Linked DNA regions of Homo sapiens: region 1 is linked to region 2. Evidence: fine-mapped expression QTL. Tissue or cell type: cerebral cortex. Region 2 holds a variant in brackets; the other region holds the start of a gene. All regions are shown on one strand. Distances are from middle to middle.

Region 1 (8,085 bases), 48 kb after region 2:
TTGGGTTTTATTTTTATTTTTATTTTTATTTCAGTTTAAAGCAGGCACTGCCTGATGTAAGCATTTTCACCAGGGATGCCGGTTCTTGTGATTAAAATCCTTGTGCTTGCTCTCTCCATAGCAACTCTTCGCCACATCAAGCTCTCTGGGAAACTGACCTAGTCATCACAAAGTGGCGTGCTGAGCCAAAGATCACAGGGACTAGACCAAGGGGCCCGGACTGGGTGCCCGAGCTGGGCCTACAGATGGGGCCAAGGCCAGGGACCACCGCCAGCAACCACCAGCAGCCTAGGGCTTGCCCACTGGCCCCAGAGGCTATGTCTCCTCTCTGACCCAGGGCGTGGCTTCAGAGCTCTGCCGCCATCTCAGCAGCAGCAGCCCCAAGGGCAGCTCTGCGGGAAGAGGGATGGCTCAGCGGGCGTTAATGAGTGGGTGAGGAATTGCTCTCTTGGCTGGCCTGGACCCACCTCCCTGCTCCAGGCAGGCACCCTCCCAGTTCCTAGCTCCCTTTTGAGGTGAGAAATGAGCACACTCCCAACAGGAAAAGCCTAGACCGTGTTTCTGAAAGTGGCCTCTGGGACCCTTCGGCAGTCAAATTCCCTGGGAGACACGCTTAAGCTGCAGATTCCTTCCTGCATTCCACCTCCGACATTGAGAGTGATACCCACAGGGCCTCTTGTCTTTTCCTTTTCCAGTCTCTTCTCCACTCAGACCTGTCCCTCCCACTTTGCTGTCAGTTCTCAGTCATTTCTGTGCCCCAGCGCCCAACACAGAAAGTGATCAAGAAAACACCTGCCAAATGCATCAATATGTGTCCCTGAGAGAAGTTAATCTGGCTCAGTTTCTAATCAATGGCACTTGAGCAAGTCCCTCTCTGTGCCTCAGTTTCCCTTTGGAAAAATGAACTGACAACAGCCCTGCCCACCCTCTGACCCATCCAAAGGCTACAAGTGAAGAAAGCTAATGAGAAATGTGGCAAAATGTTAATAGCGGGAATTCAGATAAGGCTTCAGGAGTTCTCTGCACGATTCGTACAACTTTTCTATGAGTTTTAAATCAATTCAAGGTAAAAAAAAAAAAAATTAAAGATAAAAAGTAACAACAGTGCTGGCATGGTGGCACTCGCCTGTAGTGCCAGCTACTCGGGAGGCTGAGGCACGAGGATCGCTTGAGCCCAGGAGTTGGAGGCTGCGGTGTGCTATGATCATGCCTGTGACTAGCCACTGTACACCAGCCTGGGTGACAAGGCGAGACCCCAGCTCTAACAAAAAAAAAAAAAAAAAGTGAAAACAAAAAAGAAAGCGAGTCAGACTTTAGTAGGCATGAGAAATCACCCTAAGAATTAAGTGTTCTTTAGTGAGTCACTTTAAATGTGGGTAGATACTGTTTGCATCATCAGCAGTAATTTCTAAACTGTTTTCCTCAGGTAGGGGCCCACATCCCAGTCAGCATCTCTCTCTCCACCTAGTCCCACTTCACTCCTTGCCACCACAGCCCTGAAGGAGGGCACCATAGTCCTGGCTCAGCTACCTTCCGTGACAGAGCACCTCTGTGCCAGGAACCTAGCACTTGCAGGCACCCAGTGCAGCAGGTGCTCCTGGCTTTAGCCACCCTTCAGTACTGGTGAGAAAACAGAGGCCTCAAGGGGTTGCATGAAGGGCCGAACTTTGCACAACTGGATGGTGGCTGAGCTGGGGTTTGAACCCAGGCTGACCTCTGAGCCATTCTCTTAACCACTAGGCTATGAAGGTGCCACCCTCACCTGCCACACACCTGACCAGGTGTGGGACAGTTCAGCCCCTCCTCCTCTTCCCGGCCTTTGGAAGCAATGATGGCAACCTCTCCTGAGCATCTCTCAGGGACTGGTCCCCTGATGGCACTGCCCTTGTCTTGGCATCAGCCGGTTCACTATGGGCACAGTGGTAACGAATGCAAAGTCCCTGGACTGACCCTAAACATGAGAGCCCAAAGGCCCGGACTGCAAGGGGTTGCCGCACTGGAGAGCAGCTCTCCTCTCTGGCACTGGTCCTGTCCCATGCCGCCAGGGACTGGCAGTGGGGGCAGCCTCAGGGCTCAGCAACAGAAGGAAAGCTTGTGTTACATGTGACCTGGCACCTTATAAGTTGTGGCTTGAAGCAAAACCCGCACCAAAGGGGGCAGTCACCTGTGGAAGCTTGAGTAGGGAAGGAGGAAGGCAGGCTTCTGGCTTCCAGAATGCACCGAGCCAGAATTGGGGGAGTTTGCTTGGCATGCAACTGAAGACAGTTCAGGGAACAAGTGCCGATGCCTATCGTGGCCAGGTCCTGGGCCCAGTGCTAGGGACCCAGAGTCCCTGCCCTGCCAGATCTCAGGAGGCCTTGGGGACACTGGGCAGGAAGACAAGGAGCACAAGTCAGGCTGAGGGAGGCTGAGCTGAGGCGCTGGCTGCCCCTGGCATCACTGGCCTCACGTGGGAAAGGCTTTTTCTGGAGTCTGGACTTGAGCTGAGCAGGAAGTGAGGTGGACAAGCACTGCTGCCATTTGGATTCAGATGGCAACTTCTTACTGACAGATGGCCTCTCTGTCACTCCTCAGGGCAAGGCATGGAGCTGATTTCTCTGTGGGCCCCCATATGCAGGAGCTCAGCAAGAAGTGGTTTATGATCTTTCAGGAGTAACGGGGAGGTTAGACTCCAGCAGCTCCAAAGGACGTGCGGGCCTTGACCTGGTGGCTGCCGAGCTCCTCCTCCTGCTTCCAAGCCCTTCGCCTCCAGGAAGCCTTCCCTGATCTTCCCAGCCAGGGGTGCCTCGCTGCTCCAGGACTGAGGAACCCCTAATGTTTTCATGCTACTCGGAGCTGCAACATCCTAAGTGGTCCTGGGCCACCTCTGTTGCTTGAGTCATGAGTGTCCAGAGGATGGAAATGAACAGATCTTGAGCACCTGCTGCGTGTCTGGCCCTGCACTGAGTGCCTTCCATCAGCTCCACACGGCTGAATGCACAGCATCCAGCCAGGGGCTGGGAATTGCTGGAAGGAGGGGCAGGTGAGAGGGATCTGTTCCTTCCCATCCTGAAGTGGCCTGGGAGCGATGAGGGGAACAGCGGAGGCACCAAGGCCTGCCAGAAGGCTGGCCCCTCATCTGTGCATCTGTGTCTTGGCCACTTGCTGGCCTCTGAGCTGCCCCTTGTTTTTCAGATGAGGAGCGGAGGCCCTGGGAAGGCAGGACCTCTGCAGCTCTGTTCAGGCCTATCAACCTGTGCACCCCTGCCTCCCGCCCCCAGCCAGGTACGACAGCCAGAAGTCTGAAGGGCCATGAGACCAAGGCAGGACTTAGTCCAGGTACTGAAGCCTCAAGCACTGCTGGATGGGGTGTGAGAGGCCCTCTCTCGGGGCTCACAGCTTTGGGGCCTCCCATGATGCCAAGGCTTCGTGCCGACGGCTCAGCAAGAACACAACTCCTACCATGCCTCAGATGTCCCAAAGCCGGGACACACCCACCACCTACTTTATCTGAGTCCCCAGCAGCCCTGGGTGGGAGGCAGCTTGACGTGTCACCCCCTTAAACCGACAGAGTACCCAGGTGTCCCCAGCTCAGAAGTGGCAGATCAGGCAGGAGCACCTGAGCTTTCGGCCTTTTTGTAAGGCAAGGTATCCCTCTGCCTTTCCAAAGAGGACAGACTCTTGGCTCCCTCTGCCCCCATCAAAACAATCCAGCCACAGAGCTGGTGCAGTGCCGATCCTGTCGATAACACCCAGTGACACCTGATTCGGCGCCTTCTGTCTGAGTGTGAGCAGCCACCATCCTCATGGCCCTCCCCAAGATTGCCCTGTACCCAGCACATGCACCTCACAGGCCCCAGGGCGATTGAGGGGATCCTCTGGGTGAGCCAGCCTCTGGGTCTCAGTTTCCTCATCTATAAAATGGGCACAGGGGGACGGAGGGATATGAGATTCCCTGATTCTTAAAGGCCTGCAGTCAACTCTCAGAGCATCCTGGCCCCTCGCCGTTTACTAACAATTAAACCGTGTCTTTCCTAAAGGGCAAGACAGAGGGATCAGGCTGGCAAGGGGGACACTTGCCTCTGTAGGGGACGCTGGCCTCCTCTGCCTGTCAGTCTTTTCACTCACAGCGAAAACCAGAAATCCACTGACTCCCGGGGGGAACCCGAAGAGAGATGCTTGGAGCTGGTAAGGGTTATGGATGGGGAAACTGAGGCCCTGACTTGTCCCCAGCTGGGCACGGACTGGGTGCCCCCCACTGCCTCCAAGCAGGGCCGCATCCAATGGCGACTCGACAGCCCTACCTGGCACCGGTGCCCGGCTCGTGGGGCGGGTGGAGGGTCGGGCAGTCGCAGGGCGCGGGCTCCCTCGGGTGGACGGCGCCCGGCCGGGCCGGGCCGGGCCGGGGAGGCAGGCGCGGGGCGCGGGGCGCGGTGCACAGCGGGGAGCGCGCAGGGAGGCGAGGAGGCGCGGACTGGGCTCCGCCCGCAGGAGAACAAACAGGTTTTCTCCGGCCGCCCGGAGCCTCGCCCCTCGCCCCTCCCCTCGGCCGGCCCCTTCCTCTGCCCCTCCTGGGGTAGGTAGAGGCGCCTGGCACATTCCGCACATTCTCCCGCCAGCGTCCTCCGCCCGCCCGCCCCTTCTCGGCCCCGCCCCGCGGGGCTGCTGGAGAAATCAAGTCTGGGGCTCCCCTTGTCGAGCACGGGGCGAGCTCCAGAAGGCTCTGCCGTGATGGAAAACTTCCAGGCAAATTCCTCCGGGCCCGTGGCCCCCAGGCCGGGAAGCCTCCGCCACGTGAAGGGCCCCCGCTCCTAGTTGCGCGATCTGGCCCCGGCACAGGGCCAACGACTTCCACAGATGCTGTCGGGTTAATTCAGTCGAGAACTACCGTTCCTAGATCCATTTTACAGATGGAGATCCCAGACAGGGGCGGGGAGGGGGGCGGGGGGCTGGCGGCTGAGATCATCCAGGAAGTCCTGCAGGCAGGAAAGGAGGAGAAGAGTGAGGGAGCCGCTCATCGTGGAAGGCCATCCTGGGACGGACCCGGGGCTCACAAGGCACAGCAAACGGGGCTATCTCCCAGGCTGGGCGACGAGATACAGCCAGACTCCCAGAGCCAATGCGGTTTGATGTACCTGTGTCACGCGTTGGTGCTCACCGAGTGCTTTATTGTGTGCAAGGCCCTGGGCTGGGGCTAAGGATGGAGAGAGCATGGAGGAAAGACCCCTCACCCCACGGCCTCCCAAACAGGGAGACAATTAAGCCAGCCCAAGAAATGGCATGGACTTGGCCAGGAGTTGGCCTACCAGGGTGGTAGGCTCAAAAGAATGGACCAGCTGCTTCTCCTTCATCAAGGCCTGCCAATGTGGTGTTTCCATGGCCCTCCAGTCCACCCACTTCTCCCTGTGCCTGCTGCCACCACCCTAGTCCAGACCTGGCCCCGAAGACCAGCCTCCTTGCTGGTGTCCCCCTGCCTCTGGTCTTGCCTTCCTTTCCCTCAGTCTCTACACGGAGGTCAGGTTAAAAGTTCACGTGTGTCAATATGATCAGGTGCTCTCCTGCTTGCAACTCCTCCATGGCTTCCCATTGCTCTCAGGGTAAAAGCCAGACTCCTTGAGACGACCTATCCCTGCAGGTCCAGCCACTCTTCCCTTTGTTCAATACATTACAGCCACACTGGCCTTTTTCCATTGCCTTCTGAATACATCACATGGCGCTCACCTTGGGGTGTTTGCTCCTGCTCCTCGGACTCCCTAAAATGCTCTTCATCCCCGTCGGGCTAGTGAGCTCTTAGTCATTCTTCAAGCCTCCACCCAGTGTCCGGAAAGCCTCCCCTGCCTGCCACCCAGTCGAGCTGATCACTTCCTTCTGTGCACCCCTTAGTTCCCTCAGATGACATCAATCCAGCATAGTGGCTGTCACCCTCTATTGTTCTAGATCCTGAGCTCTGGGAGGGCAGGGCCCCTTCTGATTCATCACTGGGTCACGGAGACCAGCACAGGGCATCCGAAGAATTTGCAGAAGGAAGTGATGGATGGGTGAGTGAGGCTGTGGAAGCTGTCCTCATCCTTTTCTTCTTGGGGTTCATGAGATAGGGAGAAGGCGACCCTGTGTGTGCTTAGGGGGTTGTATATAAAGTCACTTCTGTTCATGTCCGTCTCTTGCCAACAAGCATTTTTCTGCTTCCAATATTGTATGCCCCTGTCTGGTGGCCAGCAACTAACACCTCCCCTCCTCCACTGTGGCTACTGGTGGCCATGGATTTGGCTTGGCATCTTACCTCCTAAACATGTTTACTGTATGACTTAGGCTGTGTCATACTCTTTGTCTGGGTCCCAGTCCTCTTCAAGAGCCCCTAGTTTGAAAGGGTAGAAGGTAGAAGACATCATGATGGGTGAGATGTAGGGCAAGGAAGAGGGAAAAGGCAAACTTGTTCAAGAGCCCTGAGTCAGGGGTGGGGGGCCCAGCTGGAGAGCATGAGCAAATGTGGTGTCCAACGGCACGGCCAGCAAGTGAGGACTGCCCCAGGCTGGGCCGCCCCAGGGCCTCAAGCTCTTCCCATGTCCCAGGTGACTCAGTCTCTGCCCAGGCCCGATCTGTCACGACTGCTCCAGCCAAAGAGATCAGCCTTCCCTGAACCCCTCCCTCCCTGCCAGGCTGCCAGGCCCTGCAGCTGATCTTGCCTGCAAACGGGTTTGACTTGAATGGTAACTGCCCTGCCCTGCCCTGCCCACCTGTCCATTGCCCCAACAGTCTTCCACTTCCACGCCTGCCAGGGCACCTCTAGTCACCTCAGCCAGGCTTCAGGCACCTGCTGGCTTCTTCAGCCTCTTCAAGCACCAGACATGCCCAAATGACATGTACCCAGATAGACCAAGTGCTCAAATACCACCAGGACGCTGCACAAGATGCTCCCTTTGTTTGGAATGACATTTCCTCCCCAGGGACACCAGGTGGCCTCCACTTTCTCTCAGCAGTAACATTATCTCCTTCATGAACCTTCCCTTAGACCTCCCTCAAGTTCTAGGCCAAGGCTGTGGTGGCTGCTGCCTGCCTCCAGGCTGGGCTCTGTCCCTACCTGGCCTGAGCTTGGCCCTATCCTTTCCTATTCACATCTCTTGCACTTTTCCACCCATCCGCAGCTCCAAGACAGGCCAGCTCCCACCCCCTGGCTCTGGCAGAGTTCTCCTGAAGTCCCTCCAGCTTAGGCAGCAGTGCCACCTCCAGGGGACTGGACAGTCTCTTCCCACCAACAAGCAGGCCCTCAGCAAGGCTCTAAGTGAGAGGTAGGGGCTTCAGGGTGGGGCCAGGCTGGGCTGTCTGGGCAGGCAAGAGGCTGAAAGGTAGAGGCAGGGAGTAGCAGGTGGTGAGCCCTGTGCTGGAGAAGCCATAGCTCACAAGCAGGCCGTGGAGGCAGCGTCTCTGGGAGGCTGCATCTAAGCAATGAGATGGGTAGCACGGCAGGTGGCTGCTGGGAAAGAACTGGCCAGCAGCACTCCTCAGCTCCAGGGGAGGCCCCATTCTGATCTCCAGGGCTGGGAAGAGAACTCAAGCAAGGTGATCTAGCCCCAGAGTTCCCAGGCTAGGAGGTGGGCACAGTGGCTCACGCCTGTAATCCCAGCATTTTGGGAGGCCAAGGAGAGAAGACCGCTTGAGCTCAGGAGTTCAAGACCAGCCTGAGCGATATGGTGAGACCCCGTCTCTACAAAAAATACAGAAAACAAAAAGAGTTACCAGGCTAGAGGGGGAGAAAGAGGGGTTGGGCCCTGAAAGCTGTCAGGCCGCAAAGCTCCCCCAGGCAGTGTCCTCAGCTAGAGGGGACTGAAGACAGGCAGGCAACCTCAACACTTCAGTTGTACAAATGGGAAAACAGAGGCCCACAGAGGGACAAGATGTTGCCAGGATTACACAGCTAGTCTGAGGCAGAGCTGGGCTTAGAACCTGGGGTTCCAGCTGCTCTGGATGGAGCCCCTGCCCAGCTGGAGAGAAGCTGGGGTGCTCAGGTTCATGTGCGGGGAGGGCTGGGCTCCTGCTTGATCCCTAATCCCCTCCTTCCCGGGGCCCGCCCTGCCACCTCATCCTCTTAAGCTCTTCAACCGGTTTACA
Region 2 (8,101 bases):
CAAATGTTCGAGAACTCCTGACAACTCTTAACATTTGCCTTCCCACAATCAAAACTTAAATATATTTTATACCTAAAACTGGCTTTGGGATTTGCCAGGGACCTTCTGGAAAATCTCAAAGGATTAGTTCTTTCACCTTGTAACAAGAAAGGTGCAAAAACTAATTAGTCTTATTTAATATTGTATAAATTGCATTGGAAACATTGTCAAATCAAAAAAAAAATGCAGAACCTTCCCTAAATTAGTCTATAATGGGTAAAATGTCCTTAATATAAATATTTTAGAAATTCCATAGAATTCCTAGCGGGGTTTCAGTGTCCTCAGTGTACATGAGATATTGCTCTTTATCAAAGCCCCAGTGCTGCTTTGCCTTATATTAGATAAGAACAATACAAGGTTATCAATCATCATTTCAATTATGGGAAATTCACATTGCTCACTGATGGAATATTGTTAATATACAGATGTTTAGGACCTTTCCTGAACTGCCAATTTGATTTTATTCTGCACCCAAATCTCATGGTTATAAATATGTTCTTACTAGTTTATTTATGTTTTTCTCACTGGCTTGAAGCTTTCCCTTATATAAAAGGATCATTGCCACTAATGTTATTAAGCTTTTGTTAGAACAAGTATTCCCCACATGTGGAATTCTACCGCTTCTTTCAAATGACTAAGGAATCCATTTCCCCAGTAAAGTCATCCAAGAAATATAATGAGTTCTTCCTTTATCCCCCAAATTACATTGTCCTTATCATCCCCAGTCGTCTGAAATGATGGAAACAGTGGAGTATTAAAGTGAAAACTTGCCAACTGATGAAAAACTCAATCTCCCATGGCCTAAGGTTTTACCCTTAGCACTGACTGTCCTCTGGTCCTCTCGTGCTGGGTCATACGTACTCTCCCTCCATATGATATAATAACTGGCCCACCCATGAGATCTCCCTAGTGTCTAGACTCTCAAAGATTCTAATCTGGTCAATTCAGACATTTAAAAATAATGACAAGGATTTTTTTTAATTTTTCCATCTACTCTCCCTCGAAGTTCTGCTACTATCGTTGCCTACATCTCTGAAGGCTCTCACTCTGCCTGTCTCTGCCCTTCTTGGAACTCCAGGCTAGTTATCCACTAGGAGAGCACATCTAGTGGCTTTCTTCCTGGCGTGTGCCCAGACTAGGGCTGAGGGAATGCTTGCTACTTAGAACTATTAGCAGTAAGCAGCCCTTAAGCCCCTGGCCCACAGACTCTAAATGCTGCCCATCAGGTGCCATGACATAGTTGACCCTTCCTGATGAACCTAGCCTACTGAGATGCCATGCCAGTGACCAGACCCAAAGACTGCAAATAGAGAACCCCAGGGGGCCCGGAAAGGGGATTTGTCTACAGTCGCACCCCAGCATGCTACAGGATTTAGACCACTAAGAGGAACAGGAGAAGAGCACTTGCAGAGTGCTGCTGTCTGCCTCAGCAAAACAGCAGTGTGCCAGGGCAATCCAGCCAGGCCAGCCTAGGTAGGGCCTCCACCTGAAAGCCAGAGGCTTGCCTCAGGTGCCCTTGTCAGCTTGGGATCTCCACGGACCAGGCATTTGCTCAGTCAGTTGCAGGCAGTATAGAGGCAGGTTAGAGATACTTTGGCCACCACCTAAGCCAGGAGGGGTCACATACTCCACTCACTCGACCAGAAATGTGGCTTTCTAAATTGTCACTTCCCTCTCCGTCACTGCTCTCCCAAGTCTTACCTGTCATCCAATTTGGGATCTCTTCTACTTATTTTACAGTTCTGTCTCCATCTCCACAGCTAGTCCCCTAGTCCAGGCCCCATCATTTCTTACATGGAGGATGCTGTAAGCACTTCCTCTTCTCCCTGCTCCACTCTGCCCACTTCAGTCACTCTTCTCACTGCCACTGGAGATCCCATTGCAAAGCAATACTCTCGCCATATCACTCCCCTGCTTCAAACCTTCCTGGCTCCTCTTTGCCCTCGAAAGAAAATCTAAAGTCCTTGTTATGGCATAAAGTTCTGATCCTGCCCATCTGTGTCAGGGGTCCCCAAGACCATCCCTAGGCTTGGTGATTCACAAGAAGAACTCACAGGACACATCACATCATCACACTCAAGGCTATGGTTTATTATAGTGAAAAGATACGAAGCAAAATCAGCAAAGGGAAAAGCACACAAGGCAAATTTCTGAGGGAACCCGGGCACAAGCTTCCAGAGTCCTCTCCCAGTGGGTCACACAGGATTCACTCAGTTCCCCTCAGCAGTGAGTTGTGACAACAAGTGTGAAATGCTGTCGACCAGGGCAATTCATGAGAGACTCAGAGTCCAAGGATTTTATCGGGGACTGGTCACGTAGGCACCCTCTGCCCAGCCTTTACCTAACATGCACACGTTGCTTTCACCTATAGGAAACCTTCCCCATTATCTTGTAGCTGTAATTATCTGCTCACCCCTCCCACATCCATCACGTCACAGCCAGTTTCAGAGTGTGTACCCCATCAACTGCACCTGCTTATCCTCCGCTCCCTCCTCAATCCATTATAATCCAACTACAGCCTTTCCCACTGCCCCAACCTACTCCCCTCAAGGCAGTCATGAGTTCTACATAGCCAAATCTGATGGGCCTATTTCAGCATCTACAGAGCACTGGAAAGTTAGCTCAGCGTGGCTTGGTTTCCATGACGGTAGTCTTTCCTGATTCTTCCATTTATCCAAAATTTTCCTTCTCAATACCTCTCTGTAGCTCCTCTTCCTCCTTAAGACCTTTTGGAATTATTTTCCAAAATTATGGTCCATCTGCCTTTGCTTCTCTCATATTTTTACTTCTTTTCATTTTATATATTCAGCTAGGGTTTTAGGGGATCAATAATTAATATCCCCTCTTTTTTTCTTTTTGAGACAAAAGAAGAGCAGAAAATGGAGAGAAATGTCAGCTGATGAAGCAGCTTCCCTCAGCATCCCTGAACCACGTGGACTCACCCACCCAGCCAAGGGCCTGGCTGGACAACTGTCCCTGGAAGTCTGCAGAGAAAAGCCGAGAATACATGCTTTGTACACACTGCCTTCCAAAGGCATTCTCCAGGCAACCTCATGCATTCTCTTTAGTGACTTCCTATGAGCTGACAACTCCCAGCTCTCTAGCCCCAGGTCAGATCTTTGCTCAACTCCACATTTGTTTACTCAGTAGCCTACTGGACATCACTGGCTGGAGCCCCTACAGGCACTTCTCATTCGGCATGGCCCAGTGACCTTCTCATCTCTGTGCATCTCTCAGCGGGCCTGCCCCCAAACTCCTTACCCTCAGCTAGTTCCTGTCACCACCCATCCAATTGCCTAGCCCTGAAATCTGGGGAGCAACCTTGGCTACCACTTTTCCCTCACCGTTATCTTTATTTTTTTTATTTTTATTTTGGAGACAGGATCTTGTTTTGTTACCCAGGCTGGAGTACAGTGGCAGGAACATGGCTCCCTGTATCCTCGACGTGCAAGGCTCAAACAATCCTCCCACCTCAGCCTCCCAAGTAGCTGGTACTACAGGCATGTGCCACCACACCTGGCTAATGTTTTTAAATTTTTTGTAGAAATGGGGTCTTGCTGTGTTCCCCAGGCTAGTCTCAAACTCCTGGGCTCAAGCGATACTGCCACCTCGGCCTCCCAAAGTGCTGGGATGACAGGTGTGAGCCACCACGCCAAGCCCGCTTTTACCTTTAATAATTCAAAAATACTTGCAGCCTCATCACCTTGCCCCTGGTGTA[A/G]GCAAACAGTCTCCAATATGGCCTCCTGCCTTGTCTCGTCGTATACTCCCCTGGCCTGGTCCTCCACAGGGCAATGGAGGGATCTTCTTTGGACTCGAGTCTGGCTGTGGCACTCTCCTGCAGGAAAACCATCGGTGGCTCCCAAGGCCCTCAGGATGTGGGTCACACTCCTCAGCCTAGGAGCAGGTGCCTGCCCAGCCCCTACTTGGTGCTTCCTGCCAAGCCAGGCTGGATTAACCCTCCTTTGTGATGGCTACCTGACTGGATGTTCCCTATACACTTTGTGAGCCTCCACTCGGAATGCCTTCCCAAGCACGTCTGGCACATCTGGCAAAATCTCCCTCAGCCTTCCAAACCCAGCTCCAACATCACTCTCCCTGTAAAGAAAGCCTTTCCTGACACTCCCCCGCAAAACGAAAACAAAACCCAGAACCACTCGCCTCCTCCTTCATCCACAAGCCTCACTTTTTATACCCCTTCTGCATGGAACACTGACTAGTTCTAGAAGCCACACAATGTGACAGCAAGTCCAAAGTTGTTCACTCTGTTTTTGGACTGGGACCCTCCAGGGCCTGGAGCCAAGGAATCAAAGATGGGCTAGATATTCTTAGAAGGTAAAACTTGTTATCTAACAGTTGAGCTAGGCCCTAAAAATAACCTAACTATTAATAATTATGGAACCTCTGTGGTACAAGAAGCCCCAGAACAAAGAAGGCAGATGACTGTGTTTCTTTCATCCCTGCAAAAGGAACCCCAGGCTCCACCTGCTCCCCACAGCAGATGCCCTGCTGGATTCCACTAGCTCCTCTCTCGGGGCAATATGAGTCTTAGCTCTCTCCTTCTACATTTCTGTCTTGTGTAAGAAACTGTTCGCTTTGCACCCCTGGAATCACTGGCCTGTTGACGTGTCCAGAGCTGCAAGGACATGCAGTGTTTGCGCTGGCAGGCAAGATGCCTTCAAGAGAGCCTGACTTGAAACTCTCACACCAATGCCACATGGTCAGCTCCAGTAACAGGCACGTTTGTCCTCTTGCTCATGCACAGTGGCACACACCAACACATGGCCAGTCACATCCTGTGTCACTCTCTCATGCCTGCTCACACATGCTCCCTTTCTCTCCCTCTGGCCTCTCTCTCTCTGCTTCACTCTGTCACTTTTGCACTTTTACCCTCCTGTTTTTTTGCTCTTTCACACTCTGTCCTTCTCTGACAATGGCATTTTACCCACACAAATAGCCCTCACTCTGCCCAGGACCCCCACCTGTAGAGCACCTGTACTCTGAGAGACAGCCTTCCTTCCTGCCCCATGCATTGGGAATTAGCCAGGGCTTCTCACACCTGGGGACAGACACATCCTCCTATCACAGTCCCCTCCCAGCTCCTTGAGCCACAAGAAGCCTGATGACACTGCTCTAGGACCAGGGAATCACCATGACCCACTCACAGAACAGGAGCCTGGGTGTGCAATGTGTCGGGTATTGGCACAGGGTGTGGGGAAGTGGTTCCCATGTGGGTCGCAGACCTCAACAAAAACATGGGCTCCAGAGGCAGAGCCCACTGCAGCTCAGCCCTTACCTGCTGCCACAACTCTCTCGTCTGACAAGTTGCTCAGATCCGCTGGGGCTGCTCTGCCGCTCTGGGGTGCTGGGATCTGCAGGTTGCTGAGCGGGTACAGCTGGGTCTCCTTGGCCACCTCTTGGAGCTCCAGGCCTCTCCTGCCAGGCCTCTCCGACCCTGGTGGCCACATCCTTCCCCTCATAATCAGCCAAGGCCCTGAAGAAGAATAAGCACCCTTATGAAAAAAGTGCTCTGAAACTAACCCTGCCTCAGCCCCAGGACGCAAGCTGGCTGTCACCTCCTGTGGACTTGGAGGGACTCATATCCCTGAAAGCGGGGCAGAAAGGAGCCAGGCACAGCCCCAATTCCAGGGAGCAGACAGTCTCCTCCTTGGCAGGAGCCCAGCATCGCTGCTCCCTTCTCACTGAACAGGCCTCCATGTGTAATAGATGAAGCCGAAGCCTCCGATGTTTTTATTGTTGTTGTTTGGAGGCAGGGTCTCACTCTGTCGCCCAGGCTGGAGTGCAGTGGCATCATCTCGGCTCACTGCAACCTCTGCCTCCTGGGCTCAAGCCATCCTCCTGTCTCAGCCTTCTGAGTAGCAGAGACTACAGGTCTACACTACCACGCCCAGCTAATTTTTGTATTTTTTTTTTTTTCTGTAGAGACAAGGTTTCACCATGTTGCCCAGGCTGGTCTCAAGCGATCCTCCTGCCTTGGCCTCCCAAAGTGCAGGGATTACAGGCATGTGCCATTGCACCTGGCCCTCCAATTTTTGGCTTTTGCCACCCCTGAATCCAGCAAGAAGGACAGGGCTTCCCCCAGATGTCTCAGGCATCGAGCTCTTCAGGGGTCCTCCCTGGCCTCACCCCATGATTGCACTGCACCCTCCAATCTGGGTACCGTGGGAAAGAGGCTGCTAGCTGATCCTCCACTTCCACACCCCTCCCATCACCAGCCCCACACCGAGGTGCAAGGTACTGCTTCCAGAGTCTACTAGGCCAGGGGCAAACACCAAGTTGGGCTACTAAGAGAGTGAGCCCAGCATTTCAGAATGAAAATCTACTTCGCCATCACCTCGATCCTAGCTCACTCTGAATATAACCTTCCCAACATCACCAGCCTACCTTCAATAGCTGGTGGGGGCTACCCCGAGACAAGAACACGCTACAAACTACCCTGGGACTCTTTGTATATAGGAGTTAACTTTGTCTAGGCAGGCTTCCTGCCTTCAAGCTGGAATAACAAGGCCAACAGAGGCCACACTTTTTGGAAAGTATGCCCTGAAAGCAACATGATTCTTCAGCCTCAGGTGGAGGTCAAGGGAACTAAAATTCTCCAGCAGGCACAACAAGCTAATTGCCACCTCCAGCTGCACCAGGCAGAACTGCAGGCAAGTGAGTGTGACGCCACACAGTAACTGTGGGGAACCATCCCACTGGGCCTGTGCTTCTCTGTGCTGCTTCCACCCTTAGGGTCTGCTGCAGCCCATGCAGATCCAAAAGTGGTCTGCACAGGTAACACCAGTCCCAGGGTTGCCAGCAGGGTGCCCTGACACACCCATTCAATCTCTGTCAGTGACATGCTTGCTTGAGCCAAAGACAAACATACAAGGCCTGAAGAGCTTGTCTCCCTACTGTGGTAGCCCTGAGTTAGCTTTACTATGGATTTAATCAGAGTCCCGTCCTGTCCCACGTCCTCTGTAGAAATACACTAGTAGAGGTTGCCCTCACCAAGTCTGTGGATAGAGCCAGGATTATCCACAAAGAGAAATTTGGGCTCTATTGTGACACAGGGACAAATGGATGAACAAGGCTTCTTCTTTCCTAGGCCTGTGGCAGGGCCACTGTGATTTTAGGACATATGACCTATGTGGGTCATAAAAAGGAAATCTTAGGCAAACACTCACAGGAAGCTCTGCTGGACAATGTAACATCCAGGGGAATTACTTCCCAGCTATCCTGTCCGAGCTCCTCATGAACTTCCTGGAAGTCAAGTGGTTAGAGATAGGCAAGGTAACATAGGGGATGGTGACCAACGGGATTTTGGATTTTGGATTAATTTCTCTGAAGCCTTTCCTTCTGAGTGTAATTGGACCAAAGATCCAGTAGCCTAATACAGCCACTGTCAACTCCTAACACAACCATAATCTACACACTTCCATTCTTTTAAAAAACGGAAATTGTAGTCCCGGCGTAGTGGTTCACGCCTGTAATTTCAGTACTTTGGCAGGCAGAAGTGGGTGGATCAGTTGAGGTCAGGAGTTTGAGACCAGCCTGCGCAACATGGCAAAAACTCCTCTCTACAAAAATAAGCCAGGTGCAGTGGTGTGTGCCTGTAGTCCCAGCTACTTGGGAGGTTAAGGCAGGAGAATCACTTGAGCCCAGGAGGTAGAGGTTGCAGTAAGCCGAGATCACCCCATTGCACTCCAGTCTGGGGCGACAGAAGTGAAACATTGTTTCAAAAACATATATATATGAGATATACATCATATATATGATATACATATACATATACATATATAGATATAGATAATATTTGTAGAGATGAGGTCTCACTACGTTGCCCACGCTGATCTCAATCCCCGGAACTCAAGTGGTCTTCCCGCCTCGGCCTCTCAAAGTATAGGATTACAGGTGGGTATGAGCCACTGCACCCAGCTGACACTTCCACCCTTGTACTGCCTCCACTGGCCAACAACGGTTGCCAGTGGTGAGGAAATGTGGTGCCTAAACTTCACCTGATCCTCATGCAGAAAAAATATAAACGAGAAGCCCATGCTTGCAA

Which allele goes with the higher level. Positions count from the first base shown, and alleles are read on the strand shown. Sizes are in standard deviations (SD) of each study's normalised expression.
With allele G in place of A in region 2, the expression in cerebral cortex of the gene that starts at base 4,455 in region 1 is lower (moderate effect, 0.45 SD a copy in GTEx).

What was found. PIP is the estimated chance that this variant, and not a neighbour inherited with it, causes the effect.
Region 1: it holds the start of ZNF185, and the variant in region 2 is fine-mapped to the expression of ZNF185 in cerebral cortex (GTEx, PIP above 0.99).

What each region holds. Positions count from the first base shown.
Region 1 is chrX:152,894,437-152,902,521 of GRCh38, reverse strand. It overlaps ZNF185 (zinc finger protein 185 with LIM domain), which reads right to left and starts at 4,455. Exons shown (of 25, transcript NM_001395254.1): 1 at 4,284-4,455. RefSeq lists enhancers at 312-834, 4,703-5,203.
Region 2 is chrX:152,942,696-152,950,796 of GRCh38, reverse strand. It overlaps ZNF185 (zinc finger protein 185 with LIM domain), which reads right to left. Exons shown (of 25, transcript NM_001395254.1): 18 at 5,333-5,530. Among named protein-coding and RNA genes, the nearest start is that of PNMA5, 47 kb to the left of the region's middle. The variant A/G (reference allele first, on the strand shown) is at 3,758.